Linked DNA regions of Homo sapiens: region 2 is linked to region 1. The links come from fine-mapping of genetic effects on gene expression. Tissue or cell type: tibial nerve. Region 1 holds a variant in brackets; the other region holds the start of a gene. All regions are shown on one strand. Distances are between the middles of the regions.

Evidence for each region. PIP is the estimated chance that this variant, and not a neighbour inherited with it, causes the effect. A credible set is the group of variants that fine-mapping cannot tell apart.
Region 2: it holds the start of KCNA4, and the variant in region 1 is the best candidate, but not a certain one, in a credible set for the expression of KCNA4 in tibial nerve (GTEx, PIP 0.88).

The regions. Positions count from the first base shown.
Region 1 is chr11:29,779,579-29,782,255 of GRCh38, reverse strand. No RefSeq gene overlaps it. Among named protein-coding and RNA genes, the nearest start is that of LINC02546, 190 kb to the right of the region's middle. The variant G/T (reference allele first, on the strand shown) is at 1,282.
Region 2 is chr11:30,015,546-30,018,222 of GRCh38, reverse strand. It overlaps KCNA4 (potassium voltage-gated channel subfamily A member 4), which reads left to right and starts at 1,193. Exons shown (of 2, transcript NM_002233.4): 1 at 1,193-1,651.

The DNA.
Region 1 (2,677 bases):
ACTGAACATCATCTTAGGATTCCAAAAACCACATGTATCCCAACTTCCCCTTCCTAATTGGTTTGATATGGACAAGTTATTGAATCTCTCTGGGACTCAATTTTCTAATATGGAAAATGGAGGTAAAACCTGTCCTATATGTCTACATACTACATAGGATTGTATCAAGGAAAGTAAAGATGCTGAATGTAATAATGTTTTGTTAGAGAAAAAGTACAAAGGTTGATGGCAGTATTGATGATAATGACAACATTACTAGCTACCTATGAAATATTAGTTACGAGGCATAGAGCTAAGGAAATTTCACATAGATTGCATGGTACATTTTTATAGAAACCACATGGAATAAGTATTTGACAGTTGAGGAAATTGAAGCTCAGAGAAGATGCTAGAGGTTGGGTTAGGCAAGTAAGTGCTAGAATTAGGTTTTGAATGGAGGTATGTATTATTTTCTGTCTACCATGCAACTTATTAGCTAATATTTATTGAGCTTTTACTCTAAGCCAGGCACTGCCAAATGCACTCTGTATATATTACTTCAGTGAATCCTCAAAACACTACTCTGAGGGAGAAATTAAATACTGCTATCATCATTTTACAGTTGGGGAAATAATACCTTCACAGTTATTCTATTCATTGTACAGATGGCCAGGTCCCAGCCCCAGAAAGCTTTCTTCTAACTGGGTCACAGAGGGTTCCAGCTGCCCACCCACTACTGGCCCCACAGGGATCCAGGAGAATGCTATTTATGTCTCTTGCCCATCCCACAGAGCCTGGCACCCAGCTCCCTGGGGGAGGACTGCTCTTTGGAATTCCTGGCACTGTCTCCATTCTCCTCCTCCTCATACGCTGCTCATCTCTCCCAGTAATGCCTGCATTCAGTTTGTCTTTTAGCTCAGGCACAGGCAAGCATGGCCCATGCTTAGGGGGCCCAAACTGGTTACTGAAATCTAGCCAGTGCTTCTGGCATCTCATACTTTGGAAAGGAGACTGGTAGGAATTACCAGGGGCAGGATCTTCACCTGCAGCTAACTCTCTGGGAAGGTTTGTTAGAAGGTTTTCTCCACCTGCCAAAACCATGTTTGCTGTGCAGCTGGGTTTGTTGCATGTCTGTGGGGCATTTCCTTCCTGTTTCTGTAGCCCCTTCGGCACTGGGGAGCTGGTAACCTAGGAAATGGCGGTGTGTGGGAGAAGAAGGCTTTGGTGGCGCTAAGTTGCCAGTGTGATTGTCAGCCTGGTGGGCTGACTCTGAGGGGGTAGGTGTGTGAGAGGGTGGCTGAG[G/T]GTGCTGGGCGCGTGCGTGCCTGTGGTAGCTGGAGTGCTGGCACAGCGTGTGGGTGTGATTGCAATGTGAGTGATGCACACTGAGGATAATTGTCAGGCAGCTCAGATTTTTTCTTCTGTCTTTTTTTTTTCTTTTTTTCCCCCTAATTTATAGTAGGTAAAGAAATCCTCCTCTGCATCAGCAAGATAATATTTTTGAAAAGTTTCCAAGGGGATGAATTATGTGCTGTCTCAATTCCTCAGTGTTATTGATTCTCCAAGGCTTTGTGACTAATATTTCTTAATGAGGGGGCCTGGGGTCTGGATGAAGCTTGAGAAGCCAGCCTTGCCTCCTTTTTAGCATGAAAGGAATGCAAGCCAGATGCACCCTGGGGAAAGGTCACCTGCAGAGGCCAACCTTAGTTTTTGTATCCAACCTCCACTCCCCATCCCCACCTTTTGGTAGTACTAGATCCAAGTTTGCTTTAGAAACACATCCCACTCTTATTCTTGATTCACGGGTTTGGTAAAGACTATCCCCACACCCCTTTAGGGAAGGCTCATAACCCAGACCCAAGCCATATTAGCATATGTCATGTAACTACTACATTGGCCAGTTCAAGCATGGGCCGGAGACTCAAATCAGACTGAAATGTTAATACTGAAGAACTGAGATTTTTTTTTTTCCAGAGACAGGGTTTCATTCTCTTGCCCAGGCTAGAGTGCAGTGGCATGATCATAGCTCACTTGGAGGCTCACCTCAGCCCCCCAGCCTCAAGCGATCTTCCCACCTCAGCCTCCCAAGTGGCTGGGATGACTGCCCAGCTTGAAGGATTTTTTTTTTTTATTTCTAAAATGAAAGATGTAATTTTAGAATTTTTGGCAATAATCTTATCTAGATAGTCTGCATGAAAATGGAGCTAACACTAAAGGATTTAGGAAGAGGGAAAGGAACAGAGCCTAAGTCATATCATCTAAGCCTCTGGATCCAGCTGTTCTTGAGGCAGGTTCCATGCCTAAACTTTTTCATCATAGAAATCAATTAGCTCCTTTTGTGCTGCACTCAGTTTGAGATGAGTTTCCTGTGACAGGAAAACTGCTTTTCAACTGGGAGAGATTCTGCCAACAGGGGACATTTGGCAATGTCTGGAAATGTTTTTGTTTGTCACAACGGAGAAGAGGTACCACTGGCATGTAGTGGGTAGAGGCCAGGGAGGTGGCTAGATGTTCTAGGATGCACAGGACAGCCCTCACAATAATTTCTGGTCCAACATGTCAATAGTGTTGATGTCAACAAACTTGCCACACATGAAGCTGTAAAATCTGCTGATCCGTAGCAAGGCTGTCTTTCTCACTTCTCCCTTCCAGGTAACAGTTTCTCTTGCCATGGATGAAACCTTGAATTAGAGGCTTATGA
Region 2 (2,677 bases), 240 kb before region 1:
CCCGAGGCCCTGGCATGCGCGGCGGCTAGGTTTAACTTTCAACTCATAGTGACCTTTTCCTTAATTTAATGCAAAAAATCTTTCCCAGAGGTGGAGATTTAAGATGCTAATGATACATACGTCCTATGAAGAAGCATGTTAAACCACCATGCATGCACCAGAAAAACTCCACCTCTACATGCCCTGTCTATAGTTCTCCTTATTTCCCCTTACGGGAGAGGCCCGTAAAAGAAACCCACACCCTGACTTCGAGGAACAGCCCACTTTTTTTTTTCTTGGTGTTAGCTCCCTTGTGCGCACAAGCTTTAATTAAAAGAAAGAAAGAAAGAAAACCAAAAAAACTTGCTTTTTGCTGCGATATCCCTTGATTTCTGTCCTGAAGGATCCAAAGAGCCCTCAGGGAGTCGATACCAGAGCCGTATTTGTTTTTGCAGCAACAGGTTGGCTGCGGGCTCTTCCCCCGCCTTCCAAAGCCCTCAGCCCCTGGCCCACCCTGCAACTTACTCATCTCTCCAACCCTCCTCCCCTAGAACTGCTGCCTCCTGTGCGCAGCCCCTAGCCTGGGCCTGATTCCAATTTCTGTAACATTCCCCTGCCCGGGATTGAATACAGGTTGAAAGTCGGTCTCCTCCGCGCCCCTGAGGCCCAACCCCGGCGCTGAAGCCTCCCAACTCCTGTGTGCAAAGGAGACGGAGACTGAGGGATCTGGGCGCTCTGGCAGGCACAGGAGGGCTCCCCGCCCGTGGCCTCGCCGGAGATGCACCCGGCTCCCAACCCAACAAACCCGCTTTGGGAGGGGATGGGGTGGGGAAAAGAAGACGGGGCTCGGGGCTCGAGGGGAGATATAGAGAAAGCAAGTTAGGTAGAGGAGATGTCCCAGAGGACCCCATTTTCGGGACTGCACCTCCCATTGGAGCTCCCCGCTCCCAAGCCCTCTGGGGACTCCCGCGCTGCCGTCGAAACCCCTATTCCGGCCCCAACGGGGACACTTCTCCAGGATTTGCTCCTCGCCTGTGGGGACCACAGCCAAAGACTCCTGGAATCGATCCCAGATCCTGGGAGTCGGGGGGCCCAGCCGGGGTGCGGGGAGTCGCGGCGTCGTGACTGCACCCGCCCCGCCGCGCCGGGAGGCGCCCCTGGCGACCGTCGCGAACGCCACACCCTCGGTTCGGCCCTGGCCCCGCCCCCGCCCAGAGCGCGTTCGCGGCCAGGGGAGGCGTGTGCTGCTCCCGCAGCCAGCGAGAGCGAGAGAGGGATGGATGTTGGAGGAGGAATTCGGGCTTAACAAGTGATCGCTGCTGTCTAGGATTTTGTTTCTTTTCGGGGGAACCTTGACTTCCTTTCCCAGGCAATCCCTCCTGTGCTGAACTCCAGAGGAACCAGGAGTCTTGGGGTCTTCTCTGGGGCAGCCCCAACCCCCACCCCCAGGCTCCAGCCGCGAGGACTCTGTGCACCCCTCGGGCCAGGCAACAGAACTTGTTCCGTGGATATTTGGAGCCTCCACCTGCCAAACCCGAGTGATTCCTTTTACCACCCCCCGCCCCCCACCCAGGATCATTCTTCCCCTCCTCCAGCTGTTGCAGCTTGAGGGGGAAAAACAAGCCAGCCGGTGGATTTTCTTTATTTTTATTTTTCGCCCCGCCGGGGAACGGTAAGTATGATACCTTTTTTTTTTTTTTTTTTTTTTTGTATCTTTCCTCTACCTTCTTATTTTGGCTGTTAAGAAACAGTGGACATTTGAGGGATAAATAATATCGGGAATGTGACAGAAGGGCATGAATGGAAGGCGGTTAAAAATAAACCAGGAGGTGGGAGAAGGGAGGTGCGGATGCTGCGCGGCGCTCCGGGGGGCCAACAGTTGTTATTTTCCCAAACCCGGGGATGCGGTGAGTGCGCCCTGCTTAACGTGCTGGAGCGGGAACCGAGGTCTGGAGGCGAGGGCGCGATTAAAGATGTCGTTTCCCAACGAGAGGGGGGTTAAGATTTAGCATCGTTTCGCCTCCTCCCAGCCGCACCGGTTCCCTTCTTTTGGGAACAGCCGGTGAACGGGTCTGAATTGCTGCCTCTTCCAACGTTTGGATTTGCGTGCATTTTCCGAGCATTTGAGCAACATACATAGGGGCTGCATAAATGGCGTGCGTTGAAGTGTATATTTCTCACGGTGGTGGCTTTTCTGATTCCCTCTCTCAGTTTCTCTCTCTTTCTCTCTCTCTCTCTCTCTAAGGTTCAGGTACCACCCTGACAGTGACACAGTTGCAGGAATTAGCACTGAGAGACGAACAGCCTTGTTGTTGGAGGGGTGAGAGGAGGAGGGGCGGGATGCTTGGCTGTTGTTTGGGGGCGCCGGGATTGGGGAATAGGTAGTCTGCAAAATCCTATTAGTTTAATGGTGTTAAAGAAGAAGACAAATTCCTCTGCAAAGATCTCTCTCATAAAGGCTCCTGGGAATTGGCTTGAATAGATTCTCCTAACAAGAGTACCTTGAGAAAGAAGAGAGATTTTAAACCAGTCTGATTTGCTGGGAGGAATGATTTTTCTTTTCTCTTCTTTTCTTTCTCTCTCCCTTTCTTTCTAGATCAGGGATAGTGAAGTAACTAGTAGATGATTAAAAGGAAGGCAATTTGCTACTTGTAGGGTGGAGGAGGGAGTTAGATAAACAAAAACTAACAATCCCAAA